3 separate regions of the Homo sapiens genome follow, and regions 2 and 3 are each linked to region 1. Evidence: fine-mapped expression QTL. A gene starts in region 1. Each other region holds a variant in brackets. All regions are shown on one strand. Distances are from middle to middle.

Evidence for each region. PIP is the estimated chance that this variant, and not a neighbour inherited with it, causes the effect.
Region 2: its variant is fine-mapped to the expression of MCPH1-DT in lung (TOPMed, PIP 0.98).
Region 3: its variant is fine-mapped to the expression of MCPH1-DT in whole blood (TOPMed, PIP 0.99).

What each region holds. Positions count from the first base shown.
Region 1 is chr8:6,401,900-6,410,251 of GRCh38, forward strand. It overlaps MCPH1-DT (MCPH1 divergent transcript), which reads right to left and starts at 4,649. Exons shown (of 2, transcript NR_040040.1): 1 at 3,807-4,649; 2 at 1,657-3,221. MCPH1 (microcephalin 1) reads left to right here and starts at 4,728. Exons shown (of 14, transcript NM_024596.5): 1 at 4,728-4,790; 2 at 7,380-7,471. The coding sequence starts at 4,769. RefSeq lists silencers at 4,470-4,549, 4,810-4,989.
Region 2 is chr8:6,540,429-6,548,428 of GRCh38, forward strand. The region is part of intron 12 of MCPH1 (microcephalin 1); the gene reads left to right. All of the region lies in intron 1 of ANGPT2 (angiopoietin 2), which reads right to left. Among named protein-coding and RNA genes, the nearest start is that of ANGPT2, 19 kb to the right of the region's middle. The variant A/G (reference allele first, on the strand shown) is at 3,137.
Region 3 is chr8:6,487,147-6,495,146 of GRCh38, forward strand. The region is part of intron 11 of MCPH1 (microcephalin 1); the gene reads left to right. Among named protein-coding and RNA genes, the nearest start is that of ANGPT2, 72 kb to the right of the region's middle. The variant C/G (reference allele first, on the strand shown) is at 3,188.

The sequences.
Region 1 (8,352 bases):
GCTGGAATGCAGTGGTGCAATCTCGGTTCACTGCAAACTCTGCCGCCCAGGTTCATGCCATTCTCCTGCCTCAGCCTCCCGAGTAGCTGGGACTACAGGCACCCGCCACTACGCCCGGCTAATTTTTTTGTATTTTTAGTAAAGACGGGGTTTCACCGGGTTAGGCAGGATGGTCTTGAACTCCTGACCTTGTGATCCACCCGCCTCAGCCTCCCAAAGTGCTGGGATTACAGGCGTGACCCACCACGCCTGGCTGTGTAGGTGTAGTCTTAAAACTCTAATCTGAGATTCCTTATAAAAGTTCCAGCCAAGCAAACCTAAAAAGGCTCCTGTGGTCAATTATCATTCTTGCTGGACTTATGTAAATGATCAGGCCAAATTTAATGAGACAAGACTTATTTTGTAAACAAGAGTAATCTTACTTTGTTTATCTTTGATCTCAGTGGTAGTAATTATACAGAGAAATTTTATGTTTCAATGGCAAACTATAACCCAGTTGTGTGAGTTATCAGACTCTAGTCTTGTTCATTGTCTTTGAGCAATTTTTTTACCTCTTTAAAAGCTGGATCCTGCCGGTCAGGCACGGTGGCTCACGCCCGTAATCCCAGCACTCTGGGAGGCCGAGGCCGGGGAATCACCTGAGGTCGGGAGTTCGAGACCAGCCATGACCAACATGGAGAAACCCCATCTCTACTACAAATACAAAATTAGCCCACAATCCCAGCTACTTGGGAGGCTGAGGCAGGAGAATCGCTTGAATCTGGGAGGTGGAGGTTGCAGTGAGCCGAGATTGCACCACTGCATTCCAGCCTGGGCAACAAGAGTGATACTCAGTCTCAAAAACAAACAAACAAAACAAAAAACAAAACAAAACCTGGATCCTGCCATCTTACATATTTTGTCAGTAATCAGTATTTCCAATTTTCCTCCCACTCTACTGACTTGACGTCACTGAGAACTAAAACTGATTCCTTCTCAAAGCCTTGCAAGCTGAAGCTGGATGGCTAGACAGAAACTTCAAAAGACTTATCACAACACGTGGGTCTTTCAAATATTTCCCCAGAACACCTGCATCTTCCAGACTGTGCTCTAGGAAATAACCATGATGGCAACACTACCTACCACTACCATCCTCACTAAAGATAGCTGGAGCCCAACATCTAGAAAATTTCATAACTGGCTTACCCTCTAGACTGGGTTTATCGTCTGCTCTGAACATTAATCATTGTTTTTGTTTCCTTGTTCTAATCTATGTTTTTCCCCCTTTTACAGATCTCTCATCTTACAATTTCTAACTCAAATCATCTCCCCACAGCAATCAACTTAGCTTCTTTTTTTTGTTAATGAAATTTCTAGGGAAGTTTCAGATGGAGAAATGTGTGGACCATTCAGGCCCTAAAAGTTGGTATAAAGATTATTTTACTGTGAAAATATTTGATCTAAGAAAGACGCATCAAGAAATTTTATTTGAACTTCCCTTATTTCACTAAAGCAGAGCCCCCAGAAAATACAGCTGCCATTGGCCTCCCTCTGAGGAAGTTTCCTGTAAATTCCACTACTGTAGAGACAGATTGCCCATTCTCATAAGCATCCAAAAGCCCAAAAGAACCTTCCACAACTTCCTACTGAAACTCCAAAATCTCCCAACACATTTTGTTAAGTGGATCTATAAACCTTTATTTCTATTTAGTGAGTTACTCTAAACCTTGTCTTTTCTCCTGTTAACCTGTTGTTATCAGTTAATTTGCAGGTCTTCAAACACAGGACCGACATTGAATGAGGAAAAGCTTTCCTTCCAACATAGACAATACGACTACCTGTAGAACATCATTTTGAATGTACAAAAAATTATTAAGCAGATTTAGCAAGTTTTCAGGACATGAGATCAATTGCAGATATCAACTATATTTCCATATATTAGCAACAATCAGAAACAAATGAAAAAATCACCATTTACGATATTATCAAAAAACACAAGACCTTGCACAGTGGCTCATGCCTGTAATCCCTACACTTTGGGAAGCTGAGGTGGGAGGATTGCTTGAGCCCAGGAGTTCAAGACCAGCCTGGGCAACATAGTGGGACTCCGCCTCTACAAAGAATTTAAAAAATGAATTGGGCATGGTCATGTGTACTTGTAGTCCCAGCTACTCAGGAGGTTGAGGTGGGAGGATAGCTTGATCCCAGGAGGGTCGAGGCTTCAAGATGAGCCATGATCACACCATTGCACTTCAGCCTGGGAGACAGAGTGAGATCCTGTCTCAAAAAAAAAAAAAAAAAAAAAAGAAGAAAAAAAGAAAAACAAAATAAAAAAACAAATACTTAGGTTAAAATCTAACAACAGTTATATTTTTTTTTTTTGAGATGGAGTCTCGCTCTGTTGCCCCAGGTGGAGTGCAGTGGCAAGATCTCTGCTCACTGCAAGCTCTGTCTCCCGGGTTCATGCCATTCTCCTGCCTCAGCCTTCCAAGTAGCTGGGGCTACAGGCGCATGCCACCACGCCCGGCTAATTTTTTGTATTTTTAGTAGAGATGGGGTTTCACTGTGTTAGCCAGGATGGTCTCAATCTCCTGACCTTGTGATCGGCCCGCCTTGGCCTCCCAAAGTGGCAGGCGTGAGCCACTGCGTCTGGCCAGAGAAATTTTAAAAGACCTAAATGTTAATGGGTCAGAAGATTCAATATGGTTAAAATGTCAATTCTCCCCAAATTCATCTGTAGAGTCAACACAATCTCAATCAAAATCCCAGCAGTATTTTTTTGTGCAAAATGAGAAGTCGACTCTAAGATTTAAAAGGAAATCTGAAGAATCTAGAAGATACAAAATAACCTTGAAAAATAAAGTTGTAGGACATAAACTATCTGATTTCATCACTTATTTATATAGCTACAATAATCAAAACAGCATGGTGCTGGCAGCAAAAAGACAAATAGCTCAATGGAACACAATAGGAAGCCTAAAATGAAACACATACATATGCAACACAGATTTTGATGTAAGCACAAAGGAAATGCAGTAGAGACAAAAATAACTTTTTAATAAATGATGCTGGAACATTTGGATATGTATACATGCAAAAAAATGAACTTTGGTCCCTATCCCATACCGTATACAAAAATTAATTAAAAGCAGATCTTATCCTTTGAGTCCAGTAGGTTGAGGCTGCAGTGAGCTGTGATTACACCACTGCATTCCAGCCTGGGCAACGGAGTGAGAAACTGCCTGGAGAAAAAAAAAAAAAAAAGTAGAACCTAGACCTGATATACAACCTAAAGCAGTAATATTTCTAGAAGAAATCCTAGGAGAAAATATTTGTGATCGTGGAGATGAAGAATCTATCAAATACTAAACTTTTTTTACCACCTTGACCAAAAGTAATTGGTTTATATACTTCATCATATCATTTAATTCAAAATCTACAGAGATCAATGTCACTTTCTCAGTAAAAGTACGTGAGTCTTCAATGATGCCCTGAACTCACACTCCCAAGTAAACCATAACACCATATTTCCAGAGTAGAGTTTATTAGAACAATAACTGGTGATAATGATAAATATTGATCAAAGACTGAGCCTAGGAAGTGGGTTTTTTGAGGCTGCATATACTCAAGGCAATTCTTCAGAACCACAGAGGGCTCATTGGATCCTATTAAAAGCTGAGAGTGAATGAATAAACAGATAAAACAGAGACCTGAGTAGACGGTAGTCGATATTCTTTTACATGTATTCTACCTCTAGATTCCATAGAAAGAACTAAAAGTACATGAATTTCACTACCAACATCTCCATCAGTTACCAGCTGTATCACCTTGGATCAGTCAGGTAACCTCCCGCGAATCTGGTTGCTTCCGGGGCAGGGGATCCGCGGGCTGCAGGTTTGAGCCTGGTTGCCGGCAGGGTGGAGCAGCTGGAGGGCCAAGCCTTTGAGCTCCAGGGGGGGTGGCCGGGACAGTGGGTAGTGCCAGCCGATCGGCGTCCTGGGGATTGCCTGAATGTGAGGTCTGGGTTCACCCCGCGGTGACCTGAGTCCTGGGATGCCCCTACAGGGATTTGCTGCCTCAGGGATCCGAAGTCTCTTTCATTCCCTTACTGGGGATTTGAGGTCTGGAGGTACTCCTGCGGGGGTCTGAGATCTCGGGGTCACCCTGTGGGGGTCTGAAGCCTCGGGGTCCCCGCGTGGGGTCTGAGGTATCAGAGTCCCCTCCGTTGGGTCTGAGGTCTCGGGGTCCCCCATCCCCGGGATCGGAGGTCCGGCTCCCCGGAGCAGGCAGGGCGGTGCGTCTGGCCCTGAACAGTAACGTGGCGCGCCAGCCCCAGGTGGTGTCGGGCTAGGGGGGCATAACGGTGCCGAAAGTCCGCACAAAGCCGTCCGCTGGGGTCCCGCCGCGTCCGCGAGGGAATGACTGTGCCCCCTCCCCTTCCTGATCCTCAGCTCAGGTGAGCCCAGATGAGGCGCCGGGTAGCTTCTAAGTCACTAATGGAAATAGAAGGCTAATTCAGGGGTTAGGGGCCGTCGTCCTCCTTACTCCCAGGAGAAGAGAAAAACCCACGGCCCAGCAGCCAGAGGCGCGGCGAGGCGGAATCGGGCCCCCTCCCCGGGGGCTCAGCTCCCTCCAGCCTCCCGCCTCACCTACAGAGAAATCCCGGAAACGCGGATTCAGCGGAGCGCGGTGACGGCGGCGCGCTCACCCCGCGCATGCCCAGTGCCCGCGCGCGCCGCCAGGCTCGCAAGCACCGCGTAGGCCAGCTGGCCGGATCCCGCCGTCTGTCATGGCGGCCCCCATCCTGAAAGGTGAGGTACTTCCTGCTGCCTGCTCCAGCAGCGGGAGTTTGAGGACCGGCACCCCTCGTCGCGGGCGCACTCGGGGGATCCCGTGGGAGGAGCCCCGCTCGCCCCTCCCTCGCTGCCTGTCTCCCCCAGACCCCCTGCCGCCTCCTTCCTCCCCCGCTGCCTGTCCCACCAAAACCCCCTGCTCCTGCTCTCTCCCCCGCTGCCTGTCCCCCCAAAACCCCCGGCTGCCTGCTTCGTCTCCCGTGCTCCCTGTCCCCCCAAACCCCCGACTGCCTGCTTCCTCCCCCGTACTGCTTGTGCCCCAACCCCCGTGCTGCTAGTTCCCCTCAATCCCCCGCTGCCTGCTCCCTCCCCCATGCTGCCTGTCCCCCAAATCCCGCCTTTCCCCCTACCTGCTTTCACCCCTGCTGCCTTAGTCCCTGGATCTGGGGCTCACTGGCAGGCAGAGTCCTGCCCTCCGGAAGTTGGTGTGGGGCCCTCCTGGGTCTGGTCCTGTTCGACCCCCTCTGAGGCCCACCTGGAGGAGCGGCAGTTGAGTTTCTATGCTAATTGTTCCAATAATAGGAGCCGCCTTTTACTGCGGAGTCTTTGTGTGCCAGGCGCTGTGCTTAGGCTAGTATGGTATTGTCTGATTTTTTTAACCGCTCTATCAACTCTCTTATATCATTTTACAGGCAGAAACTAAGGCATCGGACGTTTAGGTGACTCTCCCTGTGTGTGGCTAGTCAGTGCTGACAGGGCCTTAGACCGGAGCTGCTGTCCTAACCAGTATATGATACCGCACGCAGTCCCACCCTCTGTGCACCTGGAAGAGCCCAGGAGAGGGGAATAGCGGACACGTGTCTTGTAGAGTTTGACCGTGAGAAAAAAGGGGCCTGTATTGTGGGGCCTGGAGTCATAAAACCTCATAGCCAAAAGTAAAGACTAGAGGCTTTATACAAAGTCTGTAATCAGATGTGGCTATTTTTCTAATGTTAGTATTTTGTTAAATTAACCTGGTTTTCTTTTAGCGTTACCCCCAATCATTGACCAACGGCACACCTGGAAAATGCTTTTAAACATCAGGTTTTGAGAAGAGGATATCCACTAGAACAGGGGTCCACTCACTATGCCCCCCAGGCCATATCTAGCCTGCTGCCTGTTTTTGTAAGGGTCTACGAGCTAAGAATGTCTTTTACATTTTTAAGTGATTTTAAAAAAAGGTCAAATGAAAAATTATATCACATTCACATTTCCTTCTCCATAAATAAAGTTTTATTGGAACACAGGCCGGCCCGTTAATATATTACCTATGGTTATGTTTGTGCCACAACCGTGAAGTTGAGTAGTTGTGGCAAATACTGTATTGGCCACAAAGCCTGAAATATTTACCATCTGTCTCTTTACAGAAAATAGGTTTCTGCACTGGAAAAATTAAGCGTAAGAATTTGGGGAAAGCAACTAATTTTACAAATGTAAACTCTCATGTATTGTATGGGTACAGTTGTTCTTTGCTTAAAATTTTAATAAATTCCACTGAAGCTATTTTGAAAAGGCTTTCAGTAGAAATTTATTTATGAGACAGAGTCTTACTCTCTTGCCCAGGCTGGAGCGCAGTGATGTGATCACATAATAGCTCAAGCAATTCTGCTTCAGCCTCCTGAGTAACTTGGGACTACAGGCACTACCACGCCCGGTTATTTTTATTTTTATTTTTTAATTTATTATTTTTTTGTAGAGCCAGGGTCTCACTATGTTGCCTAGGCTGGTCTTGAATTCCTAGCCTCAAGCAATCCTCCCGCCTCCACCTTGCAAAATGCTGGGATTACAGGCATGAGCTACTTTGTTCAGCCAGTAGAAGAAACTTCATTTACTTTTCTTATTTTTGAGGCAAGGTCTTTCTCTGCTGCCCAGGCTGGAGTGCAATGGTGCGATCATAACTCAGCTTCTACCTCCTGGGCTCTAGGGATTCTCCCACCTCAGCTTCTCCACCCTACCCACCCCCATTTCCCACCCAGTAGCTGGGACTACAGCCACTCGCCACCATTCCTGGCTAATTAAAAACAAAATTTTTTTTAGAGACAGGGTTTCACTATGTTGCCCAGGCTGGTCTCAAACTTCTGTGCCCAAGTGATCCCACTGCCTTGGCCTTCCAGAGTGCTGCAATTACAGCATGAGCCACCACACCTGGCCAGTAGAGTAAATTTTTGTTTTACTTTTTTCTTTTTTTTTTTTTGAAACGGGTCTCGCCCTGTCACCCAGGCTGGAGTGCAATGGCGCAATCTCGGCTCACTGCAACCTCTGCCTCCCGGGTTCAAGTGATTCTCCTGCCTCAGCCTCCCAGTAGCTGGGATTACAGGTGCCCGCCACCATGCTCGGCTAATTTTTTGTATCTTTTAGTAGAGATGGTTTTTCACCATGTTGGCCCGGCTGGTCTCAAACCCCTGACTTCGTGGATCCACCCACTTCCGCCTCCCACAGTGCTGGGATTACAGGCGTGAGCCACTGTGCCGGCCTCGGTTTACTCTTAAATGTAAATAGAACAAAATCTATTGGGCAGGGGATGCTGGAATTTCAAATGTATGTTTCATGTTCATATCTTGTTTTCAGATGTAGTGGCCTATGTTGAAGTGTGGTCATCCAATGGAACAGAAAATTATTCAAAGACATTTACAACACAGCTTGTGGATATGGGGGCAAAGGTAAGACACTTATTTTGCTGTTGATTCATATGACAGTCTTCTGATTGGTAAAAAGTTACATTTGCATTTTCTTATTTTGGGAGTTTTTACTTAGAATCTGGACGAAGCAATGGGTAAGCGGTGGGAGAAAAAAGAGCCAAAGTGTGAAGAATTTAGAACAGTAGGACTTTCAGAACTCAATGCCTGTGGGCATTGAGTGAGGAGGAGGAACCTAGGATGAAATGCTGGATTCTTACACTGGTTACTTGAATGCATAGTGCTATTAAGCAAAGTGAGGAATACAGGAAAAGGAACAGGTTTCTAAGGGAAAAATTGTAAATTTGGGCATACTGAAAAATATCTGTTAGATATTTGGATATACAAGTCTGGAGCTTGGAGTGTTCAAGGCTAGAGATGATGATCTAGGGGGTCAGGACCATAGGGGTCATGTGAAGTCACAGGTGTGGACATCGTCCCATGTCAGGCATGGTTAGGATGAAGAGTGGTGACAGAGGAGCGTTGTTCAGTATTCAAGGACAGGCGATGGGAGCAGGGACCCAGTGACAGAGGGAGAGAAGAATGCCAGGAGAAGGAGAAAGGAAGTGTGGAAGTCAAAGTAGGGAGTAATTTTTTTTTTTTGAGACGGAGTCTCGCTCTGTCGCTAGGCTGGAGTGCAGTGACGCGATCTCAGCTCACTGCAATCTCTGCCTTCTGGGTTCAAGCGATTGTCCTGCCTCAGCCTTCCAAGTATCTGGGACTACAGGCACATGCCACCATGCCTAGCTAATTTTTTTTTTTGTATTTTTAGTAAAGACGGGGTTTCACCATGTTGGCCAGGATGGTCTCAATCTCCTGATCTCGTGATCCGCCCACCTCGGCCTCCCAAAGTGCTGGGATTACAG
Region 2 (8,000 bases), 140 kb after region 1:
AAAAGGTGTCACATTTTACACGAGTGTCTTTTAGAGGTCTTGTAGGGCACATGTATATTTACCAGATGTCTGTGAGCGTGCAGCCTCATGGCACGTTATGCATACCTGACACTTGCACAGATTCCTGGAAGATGAGGAGCAAATACAGTGCAACAGACGTTGTCAGGCCACGTCTGCATATATAGATATATACACAGCAAGAATAGTTACAGCAGCTTACAATGACAAAATGCTTCTCAGTGTGTATGTGTGTGTACCTCTGTCTCACCAGATTCTCACACTGCCTTAGCTTGGGTTTCCCCAAAAGCAGAGCCTGAGACAAAGGCAGGCATGCAGGAAGTTTATTTAGGCAGTGGTCCCAGAGCGCAGCCATGCCGAACAGGCGCGGGAGGCAGGGGCGCCGCAGGGTGGTTCGCACACGTGGACTCAGGCGGCCACCGCCGCGCTGGCTGGTAAGAAGCCCCACAGGATCTCCCAAGGAGCCCTGGGACAGTGTCTCAGAACATCCACCTGGGGCAAGAATGGGGACTGCTGTCCCCAGGGGGCAGGTGGAGCCTAGTGGGCATTCATGACCCAGGTTTTGGAGCTGTGCTTGCGAGAGTGCCGAGGAGGCTCTCATGGGTGTCCCGAGGCAGCTTGGAGCCAACGTCCCTAGGCATGGCCTGGGGGTTTGTGGGAAGGCCTGAGGCAAGGCCTGTCTCTGAGATGTCCTGAAGAGCAAGTTGGGCCCAGAGGGTTAATTCCGAGCAGCACAAGAGGGTGAATTCTGAGCAGCACCAGAGGGTTTCCCTGACACAGCAGGGGATGCTTTGAGGCCCCTTTAATGAAGGAGAAAAATGAGGCTTAGAGAAAGTCAGTGCCCACCCCAAGTCTCATGGGCCCCAGGCTGTGGGCAGTGGCTAAAGACAGGCTAGTGGGTAACTCGGGGCCACGTGGAAGGGGAGCTTGTATTTATAGCCCCCAGTCAGCAGCGCTGGAGAGGAGAGGAGAGGAAAAGCAGTGCTCTGAGAAAGACAATATTTCTAGTAGATTGGGGCAGGGCAGGCCTGGAGACAGGAAACCAAAGCCAGGGTTGTCATGCAGGAGTGAGATGAGGTTGCAGCAGCAGAGCGAATGCGGAGACGCTCGGCAGGTCCTTGGTGGCCTCTGAGTTATTCTGCAGACTTCTGCCATTCGTCTATTTTTTGGGATACTTTGTTAAATTCTCAGCTTAGAAGATAGTAGTGATGTTTTCCCTACAGAGATAGAAGAAAATATAAAACTATTTTCTTTTTAAAACTGTACTGAATGTAGGGCCGGGCATAGTGGCTCACTCCTGTAATCCCAATACTTTAGGGGGCCAAGGTAGGAGGATCACTTGAGGTCAGCAGTTCAAGACCAGCCTAGGCAACATGGCGAGACTCCATCTCTACAGAAAATTTTTTTAAAAATTAGCTGGACATGGTGGCTCATGCCTGTGGTCCTAGCTACTCAGGAGGCTAAGGTGGGAGGATTGCTTGAGCCCAGGAGGTTGAGGCTGCAGTGAGCCGTGATCGTGCCACTGCACTCCAGCCTGGGTGACAGAATGAGACTCAATCTCAAAAAAAAAAAAAAAAAAGTACTGAATGATAAATGATTACAAATAGAAGCAGTTAAAATTTAGCTCTAGGAATGAGATTGATGCATTTAGGCTACAATATACCAGGAACTTCCTTTTTAAATGAAACTAGAGCGTTCTTGCCTTTCTGAATTTAAGGCACACTGAAAGAAAAAATAATAATAATGTAACAAAATGTCTCAGTGTTTTTCTATGCCAAATAGAATCTTATGTATATCTGTCTAGAGACATATATGCATACATTTGTCTACACATGTGAGGTAGGGGTGTGTGTGTGTGTGTGTGTATCTGTGTGTGTGTGTATGTATGTGTGTGTGTTTCAGTTCTCTAAGAAACAGACATTCCAAAACTTGTGTGTGTGTGTTTCAGTTCTCTAAGAAATAGACATTCCAAAGCTTGGTGGGCAATGGCGGGAGGCTTTAGACCCTGTAATATTGTCGGAGTGTCACTGTAAGAGGGACGCTAGCGCCTGGGTCACAGTGCTAGCTGGTAGCAGAGTACTAACTTAAACCCTGGTCTCCCAACACCCCATCCCGCACTCTCATCGCTGTACTGATATGCCTATTCTTATCTTAAAAAAAAAAAAGTGCTGTCTGAGGAGCATTAACATTCTTACTTTTTCATTTTTGAAATGAAGTATAAAGATACTGATGGCCTTTTACGTCTCCTCTCTGCCCTGTTTTTGCTGTCTCTTTCTGTGTTACATGGGTTTGCCAAAATACTGGGTGGAGCTCTGTGGAGGAGGTAGCATGATCATCTCTGAAGTGGGCAGTTTTTTTCTTTTTCCAATAAACTGAATTTACTTGGTCACAATGACTATCCTAAATGGCTAGAAAAGGGAAAAGGCTAGCGAAACTTAGATGATTTTCTAAATTTAGATAATTTTCTAGAAGACATTTTCCAGGCAAACTAGTTTTTGCTGTCCTTTATAAGGCCGGCAGGAAGCGTGTGTTGTTTCTGTTTTAAAAAGGGAGAGGAGCGGACTTGGGAATGCTGATGGGAATGCTTGAGAAATCTCACAGCAGGGCTGTGCGTGCCCTGCCGGGTCCCACTGCCTCTGGACAGAAACCCCCGCAACTCCACCCCCAGCCAAGACTTTCTGCTTCTTTATCTCCTCTTTCTGCTAGCACCCAAAAAGTTGAAAGAATTCCAATGGATAGAATTTTTGAGATAATATTGGAAGATGCTCAAAATACACAGGATTAATTTACACGAAGACTCAGCGGGAACACAAGCCATCTTCTGTACATGAAGATGCACTACTGACCCGCCGTCCGCAAATGTGTTTGTACAGTTACTTTCTCAGTATGGGTGATGGCTCTCCAACGAACTGCTCCTCGTCTCCTGCCTGGACACCCTTCTCTCTGTGCTTTCCTGGGTTAGAGTAAATGGATGCAAACACACATTTCCGTGCTCTGCAGCAACTTGAGACTCCTGTGAGCAAAACGCACTGACGGGCAATGTGCGTGGGTCGTGGGGAGCATCCAGCTCCCATCTGCGGAATAAACCCGCCCAAACCATAGGGAAAAGCGCTGTCGT[A/G]TAAGGCCAGGGGATTTTCAGAAAAGAAATGTGTTCTTTCCTCTTTGATTTTTGTGTTCATAAAGCTGTAGGTGCAGCTTTTTTTAATGTAATGATTTCATAACCGCTGAAGTTCGTGCTTTTCTGAACTATTTAGGAAGATAATCTACCCCTTGTATTGGATGAGATGATCTGTCCCTTCGACCTCTGGTTCAGTTCCCATTCTCCCAAGTATTTAAAGCTGCGAGTTTTTTCATATTTTCATATTTATTTACATAATTTAAACCCCCTGTGTGCATGGACTTTAAGGAGCTGTACATCTGCCTGGGCTTTGCAGAAGCTGAAAGGGCGCAATCTTTTTATAACTCACATTAGAAACACAGATTATTTAACGGGGCTATGTTTTGCACCTTAATCTTTAAAGTTGCAATATATTTTAAGCATTTTAACCTTGTTTTAGATCTGATCAGCAGTAGAATGTTTTCAGATAAGAAACAATGGAGCAAAAGCAAAACAATATTCAATACCTAGATGATGTGGCAAGACAGAGAATAGTATAACTTTTTGTTTTCCAAACATAACTTTTATCTTCATCTCTTGATCTGAAATTTGGTAGGAAGTGTAACAAGTACGAATCAACATATTTACCATTTGCCATTTCAAATGTTGATAGTGAAGCTGGGACCTCTGTTTATTATGGAAGACCATAGAAAACCCCATAAACACGTTCTACTTCTGTCTGTGGCCAGCAGTCCAGCAAAAATGTTCTAAAAGCACATGCACTGTGTTCCGTGATGATTATAGTTTGACTGTGCTGGAAAGAGAGACTGTGAACTGCACATGGTGATTATGACTTTGGGCAAATCACTGAACTTGTAATTATGTCTTCCAAGACCTCCTAACCCAAAATAAGAGAGTATTTTACTACAAAATATATGTTACGTCAAACTGTTTTTTACAAAATACCAGCTCTAGGGATGTTTCCAAGTCATTTTCGGAGAGAGTTTGTCGAAGTTTTTTTCAGGGTGTGTCATTCATGTATTGGAGGGGGAGAGGGTTGAGTAAGAACCGACATGCACAACTTGGCCATGAAATGAAGCGCAAGCACATATTTTATTTCTATAGGATTCCTCATTCTAAAGTAATTTTTACAGAAAATGGCACTCTAAGAAGGAATTCATTAAGATAAAGACACAGATACAGCATTTAGAGTTACACTTTGCCATAAAAGAGCCTCCCTTACCTCCTGACTTGAATCTATAACATCTGCTGAACTGTCGACATCAGGAAGACTCGAAATATGTTTTGAGGCCAATTATGTCATTTCAGATTGAACCTGCTAACATCAGATTCTTTGGTCAGTAGTCTCACTAGTTTTGTTCTCACAATGGAATTATTATTTTGATTTTTAAATGTTGCTCCATGGAGACTGGTATGATGAGCTCATGCTCTGCAGTTCCATTTTAACAAATAACATAATAGATCGCTGTCAAATGAATGCCATCACAGACATCATGTTGGGTCACAGAAGCCACACCCTAGGAGTGCTTACTAGATGATCCATTTCCATGAAGCTCAAGAATGGACCGAACTTACTAAAGGTGATAGAAGTCAGAATAATGTCTTCCGGGTGGGAGGGGTTTGAGGCTGTGAACTGAGCAGTGGCACGAGGGAGCCTTCTGGAGTGCTGAAAATGTTTCCTAGATCTTGACCTCGGTGCTGGTTACATGAGTGAATCCATATTTTTAAAAGTTATCAAGCTGTAAATTTCAGGTTAGTATACTTTATCCATTTCCTGTGTTTTATATCTCAAAAATTCTTTTAAAAACTAAAAGACATTTAGAAATGAAATGTTTGACAAGTTTTGTTGTGACACTATGACCCTAGTTACTATGGGTGGTTTTATTTGTCTCTGCAGTTTTCATCTAGGAGCACCTAAATAATGCCTAATGAAATGAACTTTGGAAAAGTAATTTTAAAGTAACTATCTTAGAGAACTGTGGATTAAACCATTCCAGCCATCTGATGAGGGTTAAAATGTATATTCGTAATCTGACATTCCAAAACACGATTCTTTCCGGATCAAGCATAAAAGGCATTTGCTCTTGGAAGACCAAGAAAGAATTCATGTGGTTCCCATTAGTCTAAAAATAAATAATAAATAAATAAATGTCTGAGTCATGTATTGGATTTTGTTGGATTTCAGTGGCTTCAAGTATAGGAAGAAAATGATTTGTGCTATTAATAATAGTTCTACCCATTGCCCATTGGAATAAATACAAGATTACTCTGAGAAAAGTGAAATCGATTGAATTTAGTTCTGCTTTGAGCTACTGCAATGCAAGTGTTTCTGACTTTTGAGACATAGTATAAAAAACTGAATAAAATAACTTTGTTCATATTGAATTGAGTTGGGGAAGTAGCGATATTTGTGACATTGGAAGCCATTGTCATTACAGATTCATCATTACAGTACAGATTTGAGAATCAAACACACCCGGTGTGAGTCCCAGTTCAGTTCCTTAGGAACTACTGGCTCAATACTTTCTAACATCACATTTCTGGTTGGTAAAACAGGTATATAAATACCTACTGTGCTATGCTAGTGTGAAAATTAAGTGGAATGAGTTAGCACAATTCCCAAACTGTGTGCCAAGGCACCCTGGGTCCTTGCAGCAAACAAATTGGAGTAAGGGAGACAGTCTGAATATTCAAGGGCAACCCAGCAGTGTTCAATGACTGTCAGCCACTGGAAGAATTCATAGCTCAAAGCAGTTCACCGTTTCAACAGTATCAGCTTGTACCTCTGTAAAGCTAGGTTTTTGGTGGTTGCTGTTTGTGAAAAGCAAGTGCTACAGGAAAATTAGCATAGAGCGTAAAATGCAGGTGGCAGTGTCCAATTTGATTCCAAAGTTTGAGAAGCCAGGTGTGCCTAACTGGCAAATATATTCCATTCATACGTCACTGGGGTTACTTAAGAAAGAAAATAAAGGATCTTTTTTTAAAACTCAATTTATATGTATATTGGTATTTTCAAATAGCTACTAAATTGTCAGAACATAAATACTTAAATTATTTGGAGCTAACCGCTTAATACAAGCAACTGTTGGCCTAGAGATAAATAGAGAAAAAATAGTGAATCACTAAGGGTCCCATGAGCTGAGAAAGTTTGAGAACAACTAGCCTAGAAGCTTGCACTTGGTAGGATATAAACTCAACGTACCCTCTTCCTCCCCTTCCCCCAATCCAAGTATTGCCTTTAATTGTAATCTCTATGATTTGATATGTTTATCGGAAAGCGAGTAAGTCAAAAAGAACTAATAAATTGTGTAAGACCTTCATTAAGATGTACCCTTCCGTGTTTTCCTAACTTCTGAAATCACTAGGAAAAACAGCCATGTTCCTTGCAAGCTGGCTGGTTAGTCCTGTCTTCTTTCAGGTGAACAGCATTTATAACCACGGTGTACCTCGGAAGAAGCGTTCTCAGAGCAACATGCACGTGTTCCGTGTGTACCGTGGTTGCCTTCGGGCTAATGCGTTTTTGGAAGTGTAGATAGGTGCCAGTTTTACAAAACTCATGTGGCCTATTTCTGCTTGTAATTTATAGTTTGCCTCCTCACCATCCTCACTTGCTCTAAGGTGAACTAGTTTTATACCATTAGATTATACAGAAAAGTCAAATTTACTTGCATGCCACAGCAATTCGGGAAGTAAACTTTCAGTGTGATTCTCCAAATGCTTGTGGTAAAAGTACAGAGACTTGAATCATTTTCCCATAATTAGTTTCAGTTCTGGAGGTCCGCCCCCTCTCTTTAACCCTCTTGCCTTGCATATGTGTCTCTTGCAATGGAAGCTAGTGGAAATTTCCTCTCCCCTTTCACTCCACTGCCATAAGTTATAAAAAGCATGCCATTCAGAACTGACGTTTTCTTCTGCATGCTTGAATTTTTACTCAACAACTGGAAGGGGAAGAAGTTATTTCCAGAGATGTTTCTCTGTTTATCAAAGGGGCGCAGAGTCACAGTAGCACTTTGGACCACCGTAGAATGGCTGACTCACTTGCCTCATCAGTAGAGGGGCACATGTTCCTATCAAACAGTGAGTGCCTTTGAGTGACGGTGTGTGACACACAGCACAGCAGCACCATTTCTCAGAGCTGCAGCAACACTGGTTCACACAAGTCACTAGAGATTCCCATCTCCACTGACTCACTCGGTGGGAACAAAAGCTCCCATGCCGGTGGGAATGCGGGGCCAGGGGAGCACCGGAAGAAGGGAGCCGTGGCAGAGGTTTTCCTATTGTTAGGTTTGTTTGTTTGTTTCAGTGAGTCATCTTACCCCCATTTTTTTTTTTTTTTTTAACCAAAACTCACTGTGGTTACTTCTCTAGTTTGGGTTATGACTCCTACGAGCCAGTTTAATTTTATCAGTGGCAGTGAATTCTTGAACGCTTCCCTCAGTTGTAGAAATTTAGTTTCACATTTAAGTGGTCCAAGTGCCAGCTTAAACTTTGTGGTTTAGTGTCTTTACTGAATCCCCCCTAGCGGAAGAACCTACATTGGAGTTTTGGCTGCTCTTTGGGATTCAAATTATGAGTAGTTGGTTCCACTGGAATCTTGGCCTTCTCCTGGAGTGGCTTGAGGCGGCACGCTTTGACTTTAGAAGGCCAAAGTTAGAACCTACGTGAAGGCTTTGTCCAAAATGCCTTTCCTGCACCCTGGCATTTTCAGGTGGTGTGTGTAGACCTGACAGGACTCTACTCGTGCGTCACTTCCCAGCTGTTGGTCCCCTGCCACTTAGATGCCTTTCATGGGCAAGTCCATGCTAGCCTAGGAAATTTCCCGAAAATGGCAGTGATAACTCAGAATTAGGATTTTGATCCTCAT
Region 3 (8,000 bases), 85 kb after region 1:
TTATAAATACAAGTGTAGGGCTTAAAAGCTAAATCAGCTTTACAACAAAATGTCAAGGCCGCTAACTATCAACAGATAATCTAGTGTTTTCTTAATCAAAAATGATTTCATGATGACTATTTTCTTGAGATAATGTGATCCACATTGAACTTAGTAAGCAGTGAGTCAGATGAGATATGTTTTTATCAGTGGTGAGCATAGAATCAATGAACTGTTAGAATAACACACTCAGTTCATTCCGTTCACGCCTCTCATTTTACATTAAAGAAATGCTGAGCCGCTCTCCTAAAATTATAACTCATGGGAGAACCAGAACTGGAATCTCAGCTTTTCACTGGTGTTAGTTCATCACCCTGCATTCCTAAGTCTGTTCAAAAGGGATCATCTTGAAAAACCATTCTCTTTTTAACTTTCAGTTGGCAGATTAACTTCATAACTCATGTTAGGAAGAATCTTCAGGGACATTGTACTTGGTGTGTCACACTGACACTGAGTTTCTGAGGGTGCCCTTCAGGTCTCTCTGGCAGACATTTATTGCTCGCACTTGCAAGCTGACTAGGATCTCAGGCCTGGGTCTCTGAACTTTCACGGCTTGATTTCAAAGTCCTTTTTATCCTGCTACAGATTATACCTTGGTAAAGGACTTTATACTTCACAGAGTGTTTTCACATGCACTGTCTCACTGGATCCTGACAGAACATTTTTGCAGCCGAGAAGGACGCTGCAAATAATTAGTGAATTTAGTGATGGAGACTCTGGGCAAAAATAGCTTGTCTGACTTGAACGTGGATCTTAGAAACACATCTCTGTCAAGGCATTGTTTTAAGGCAGTGACTATGGTCTTACATTTATCTCCAGGACACCTAATTTATACTTTTTCCTGATTAAAATAATGGATTCTGGTTTTGCCCAGACATAGAACCCACAGAGTTTGTCTGCTTCTTTCACTTGAGGTGGTTCCTGAGCAGTGCCAGAGCTCATTCTCTGCGGAGGCTCCTGCAGGCTGCGGCAGCGTGGCCTCTGGCCGCTGGGAGCATGGGAAGCAGGCGCTGCGGTCTAGGTCCTCCATCCCCCTGTCTGCTGCTCCTGGCAAGACCCCAAGGTGCGCATTTCCCAGGTTGGAGCCGCTGTGCTTCCCAGGACCATAATCTGCTGATTGAGGACAGATACCAAAAAGTGATTCATCTGTAAAATTGAGGGCTGTGGTGCTGCCCTCTAGGAGGACATTTGGAAAGATGTGGAGAAACCTGTGAGTGCTAAGAATGACTGATGTTAAAGTTTGAAAGAGTCAAAGTGATTTTTTTAGTGGGAGAAGACTGTGGAGTCACCCTGAGATGCAACCACAGGCTTGATTAGAAATAAAGTTTGATCACCATTTTCAAATTTTTACATTAATATTTTTTAATTTTCGAAAGGTGCTAAACAGAATCTACTTAATGCACCTGGCACAGAAAAGGCAGTGCCCGGGTCCTAAGGCTGCACCTTTGCAAGAAAGAGAAATACCTGAGGCACCGGGAGTGAGGAGGACAGGTGTTGGAGAAGGCTGTAGGGCCCCAGTATGGCTGTGTAGTTCAAGACGAGGGATGCAGAAGCCATCGGACTATTTTAATTACAGAGTGGCAGCTTTTGTCTCTGTGGCCTCTCAGCAAAGAATGGATTGCAGGGAGGTAAGAACAGGGTGAGAAGCAGGAGGCAGCTAGGGTCATCGAGGTGAAAAATGACTGCGGCTGTGTCTAGAGGGGGGGTTGATAGGTGGAGAGGAGAGAGCAGGTCGGCGCCCTTCCTAGGAAGATCTAGTGGAATCTGTAACGTCAGGTGTGTGGGAATGGAGAAGTCAAGAAGACTCCCACCCAAATTTTTTCCTGGGGCGACTAACTATAGATAATGGTGCCATTTGCAGAGTTAGGGAATTCTGGGGCAGAAGATTGTGTGCAAGGTTTGGGGTACAATAAAAAATTGATGTAGGCATATTAGGTCTGAGATTCCTACTGGACATTCAAATAGAGATACTACATATCAGATTATATATATGTACAAATATTCAGAGGAAAGGTTAACTATTCACTCCAGCCATGGTACCTGGAAGGGAGTGTGAATGAAGAAATGAAGAAAACAGTGAGTTTAGGTTTGATCTCTGGGCTGTGCCCCTATGCAGAAGTCAGGGGGAAGGGGGAGGCAGGGGGACCCGGGAACGGCTAGCTAGCAACCTGGGGGAGACACCAGGGGAACATGGCATCAGTCAGAAGGGGGACTGTCTCAGGAAGGAAGGATGCTCAGCTGTGCTGAGTGCTGCTGGAAGGTGAATAAGAGGAGACAGAAGCCACTGTTTGATTTCTTCAGGTGGATGTTGTCAGAGACCTTGAAAAAAGCAGGATGAATCCAATGACTAAGACAGTTGAAGAGTCAATGGTACATAAAGCAGTGGAAGCACTAGGGTTATGTGTAATGGTGCGATTTGCTGAGTTAGGGATTATTATCAGACATATTGCTGATATGTTATTCCTAGACATAATGCTGCTGCTACATCAGAGAGATTGGTTGGCAGCGAATGGGGCACTGTGAAGTGTGACTCGAGCCTTCTCGTGTTGCCAACTGCAACACAGATCATCGTCCTAGTGCTTGGCGATGTGGTTGCATTATGGTGAGTTGAGTGTGGCCTTGGGAAGCATCTGAATCTGTTGGCTGAGTTATCAGGGAAAAAAAATTTAAAAAGTAAACTAAGATTATGTATATTAATGAAAAAGTTGCTGTATTTGGCAAATACTTTAAATGGATAAGGCTAAAAACCAACAAGTCGAGAGGGTACTTGTTGCCACCCATCCTTTTCCAAATCATGGCCTTCAAGGATCACACTGTTGGTCTTTCCTTTTCTTTTAACTTGGATCAACTGTGAAGTAACACAGGTCTTCAGTGTAGATCTCAGTTCCCCAACATTTGCCTTATGACTGAGACCTCCAGGACGTCAACTTGGTCCATGCTGAACTGCAGCACAAATTCCAAGCTTTGACCATACCTCAAGGTGCACTTTAACCTTTGCAGTGTTCTGCCAGACATCTGAACTTTCACTTTTGTTTCTGACATCTCAATCACACAGTTCTCACTGTAAATATTAAATAATAGCACAGAATATTTTAACTTCAGGTATTCATTGGAAAATTCAACCATGGTTTGGTTTTATCTGTCACTT[C/G]AAAAACTGTCTTCAGCTGTCCATCATTTAGATGTCATTTAGATGTTCCTCAGGGACTTTGGGGACATTGTTAACAATCTGTTATTTCAAGGCTTCTAAACTCTATCCCCAAGTTAAAATGATTTCCAAGGAACATCATACTTCTCTTACAGTCTGTGTGTAAGCACCCTCTGTGAATTCGGTTTTAGGGACAATGTTAGCTTTTGAAGAGAGCTGATGTAAGAAATACTAGATTTTAGGAAACTGTTGTACTTTTTTCAAAGCTATATTTGACGACATTGTACATTTTGCTACCTGATACTTTTGATGTATGATCCACCTAATGCCTTTCTCCTAAAATTAATTTCCAATGAATTGAATAGGAATTCCAAATGAAATGAATTTCATAGGAAAATCTCATACAGAAAATTTGTTAGGCTGTCCTTAACCAGAGAATGAGAATTATGTAATGCGGTTTTGTCAGCTAGAGTAACAGCTTGCCATAGGTTCATAATAGAGCTGTTTTTTAGTTCTTTTTCTTGGGTTCTTGTTTCTGAAAGAAAGTTTCTCTGCCAGAATATTGAAGTTGTGCCTAAGTTAATAATTTAACAAGCATTGTATATATTAATAATATAATATCAATAATGCTATTAATCATTAATAACAATTATTTAATATTAATATTAAATACTTAATATTAAATTTTTAGAATATTAAAATTTAAAATTTAAAAAATAAAATTTATCAAAAAAAATTTTTTTTTTACTTTTGAAGCATTGGTTTTATTAAACTTTCAAAGTAGTATGGCAAAAAGGTGGCCACATACCAAATAGTGTCATACATTTCTTAAAATCTCTCCTAGCAAATAAACTTAAATTGAGATCATGAGTCAGTTGAAAAGACAATTTAATTTTTTTGCCATACAATTAAAGTATTTCTGAGAAGTCAGAGTGCTTTGCAATGTTTGGTGAATAATTTACACAATTCCAGAATAATGTCTCACTTATGGAGAATACACCTACCACTTACTTCGATAAACAGAAGTAGAGTCTATGGTTTCTTTCTTTTTTTTTTTTTTTTTAGCTGCTAAAGATTATTATTAGGACAGAAGGACAATTAGCTTTAAAAGCATTGCTCAGAACATGTATTTTTTTTTCTAGTATTCTTTTTTTTTTATTATACTTTAAGTTCTAGGGTACATGTGCACAACATGCAGGTTTGTTACATATGTATGCATGTGCCATGCTGGTGTGCTGCACTCATTAACTCGTCATTTAGCATTAGGTATATCTCCTAATGCTATCCCTCCCCACTCCCCCGACCCCACAACAGGCCCTGGTGTGTGATGTTCCCCTTCCTGTGTCCATGTCTTCTCATTGTTCAATTCCCACCTATGAGTGAGAACATGCGGTGTTTGGTTTTTTTGTCCTTGTGATAGTTTGCTGAGAATGATGGTTTCCAGCTTCATCCATGTCCCTACAAAGGACATGAACTCATCATATTTTATGGCTGCATAGTAGTCCATGGTGTATATGTGCCACATTTTCTTAATCCAGTCTATCATTGTTGGACATTTGGGTTGGTTCCAAGTCTTTGCTATTGTAAATAGTGCCACAGTAAACACACGTGTGCATGTGTCTTTATAGCAGCATGATTTATAGTCCTTTGGGTATATACCCAGTAATGGGATGGCTGGATCAAATGGTATTTCTAGTTCTAGATCCCTGAGGAATCGCCACACTGACTTCCACAATGGTTGAACTAGTTTACAGTCCCACTAGCAATGTAAAAGTGTTCCTATTTCTCCACATCCTCTCCAGCACCTGTTGTTTCCTGACTTTTTAATGATCGCCATTCTAACTGGTGTGTGATGGTATCTCATTGTGGTTTTAATTTGCATTTCTCTGATGGCCAGTGATGATGCGCATGTTTTCATGTGTCTGTTGGCTGCATAAATGTCTTCTTTTGAGAAGTGTCTGTTCATATCCTTCGCCCACTTGTTGATGGGGTTGTTTTTTTCTTGTAAATTTGTTAGAGTTCTTTGTAGATTCTGGATATTAGCCCTTTGTCAGATGAGTAGATTGCAAAAATTTTCTCACATTCTGTAGGTTGCCTGTTCACTCTGATGGTAGTTTCTTTTGCTGTGCAGAAGCTCTTTAGTTTAATTAGATCCCATTTATCAATTTTGGCTTTTGTTGCCATTGCATTTGGTGTTTTAGACATGAAGTCCTTGTCCATGCCTGTGTCCTGAATATTATTGCCAAGGTTTTCTATGCTATAGAAATAGCATATTTCTATGCTATTCATCATTAATAACAATTATTTAATAATATTAATATTAAATAGTTAATATTAAATTTTTAGAATATTAAAATTTAAAATTTTTTTAAAAATAAATATTTTATATTAAATTATCAAATAAATATTAATAATAATTATTTAATATTATAAAATTAATAATCTTTCATTATTGAATTATTGATTGAGTTAAGTAATTAATTGATTAACTGATAAGGATTATTGTTAAATTATTGTACTCTTGGGTAGTACAGAGACTGCATACTGCGCTTTGCCATGTAAATACTATTGTCTACTTCCTGGTACGTGGCTCTAGGGAGGCTATGGCAGAGTCAAGTGCTTTTGCCCTTAATGTGAACAAAAAATAGTGATTGCTCTTAGTAGCCATAATATTTGGTTTATTGTCTGTGTTGGTAATAATTTCTGCTGTGTTTTCATACAGTGAAGTGATGTTTCTGCTGTTTATTTTAGTTGCATTGGAATTTGTTATATTTATTTCTTTGTTTTCCTTTTGATAAGAGAAGTACGCACTTAGTTATTTATAAAGATGTTTGGACTTCACATGTGAGTACAGTGGTGACATGCTGGGTTTTCCTGGTCATTGCTTAGCTGTATTTATAAAGTGAATATTACTGAGCAGTTAAGCCTTAACATCGAGAATCACCCATTTTCATTTTTGAAAACTGGAAAGGATTAGGTAGAATGCAAGGAGAATAAATTGAACTTAAATGTTTGTGTTCAATTGAGGTGAGCTTTTTCATAAGAATATTCAAGCCTAGGTCAACATGCAGCTTGTTTTCCCTCTCACCACCTGGAATTCAGTCTCTATCGGTCAATGTCTTCTAAAAGGGAAATGGGTTCTTAACTATATACTTTTAGTACTTTATTGCTTATCTTCCCTTTCTTGGTTGAATAGGCTGTGTTAGATATTTAGCTTCCTGCCCCTTTCTTTATGAGACAGCTAGAGCAGTGCTTTTCAAAACCTTACTAATGTGTGGATCACCTGGGGGATCTTACTGAAGTGCAGATCCTGGTTCAGTGGGTCTGGGTCTGCTCAGGCTTGAGGTGAGGTCCACGCTGCTAGTCCTGTGACCCAGCATTAGGTCCCCAGGATACAAAATATGACCGGGGATCTCTGTCGTATTCGGGGGTGGAGATGAGACAGCGTCCCAATGATGTTAGTCACATGGAACATTTAGAGATGCGGAGCTACTTTGTCAGTGTTTTACACATCGTCAAGCTGTTAGTCAAGACAGTAATCCTCTGTGGAAACTGTGGCTTGAACACTTTCAGTAAATTGCTCATGGTCATAGTGCTTGGAAATAGTAAATTTTTTTTTTTTTTCTTTGAGACAGAGTTTCGCTCTGTTGCCCAGGCTGGAGTGCAGTGGCACGATCTTGGCTCACTGCAACATCTGTCTCCCAGGCTCAAGCAATTCTTGTGCCTCAGCCTCTTGAGTAGCTGGGATTACAGGTGCATGCCACCACACCTGGCTAATTTTTATTTTTTGTAGAGACAGAGTTTCACCGTGTTGTCCAGGCTGGTCTCAAACTCCTGACCTCAAGTGATCCGCCGACCTTGGCCTCCCAAGGAACTGGGATTACAGATGTGAGCCACTGCATCCTGCCAGAAATGGTGAATTTTGAATTTGAATTCAGCTCTTCCTCAATTCATAGCCCACATTCTTTCTAGCATCTACTTCCAAAGATAGCCTAGAGAGTATTTTTTATCTTCTATAGCTGTAAACCTTGATATGGGCATTCTCTGATGGCCTGTGTGTTTTGAAAAGATTAATGGATAAGGCAGTGGATTTCACTGCTAACCTTGCTACACCGTAGCTGTGTAACCTTGGGTAAGGCAGTTTCTTTATCTGTAAAAGAATGGAAAGATCACCTAAATAAAGTACTCAGTAAACACTCAATAAATATTAAATATCGTTATTATTCAACAAGCATTTTTGACGCTGATCACTAGCCTTCATTAAAAGTATAACTTGGATGAACGTTGAACACACCGAGTGAAAGGAGCCAGACACAAAAAGCACATGTTGTATAATTCCTTTCAGACAGTATATCCAGAATAGGTAAATCCATAGAATAGAAAACTAATTAGAAGTTACCAGGGATGGAGGGGAGAGAGGGATGGGGAGTGATTACTTAACAGGTACAGGATGTTTTTCTGGGGTGATGAAAGCATTTTGAAACTAGAAAGAGGAGCTGGTTGCACAGCATCATGATATAAAATGCCATTGAATTGCACACTTTAAAATGGTTAATTGTATATTATGCCAATTTCACCTCACTTAAAAAAAGTCATATATGGAAAATAGCTTTAAGGCACCACTACAACTACTAAATAGGTTTGTATTTTTAAAAGAACTTTATGGAATTATAGGAAGCATTTCTTGATGTTATGAGATGTGTTGGAAATACAGAAGAATAGCTTATTTTGGAACAGATATTATTGGCTTGAAATTTTGCCAGTTCAAGCTGGTCTCTTTGGAAGACTAGACCTTTATTTTCTGGCTTGAAAATGC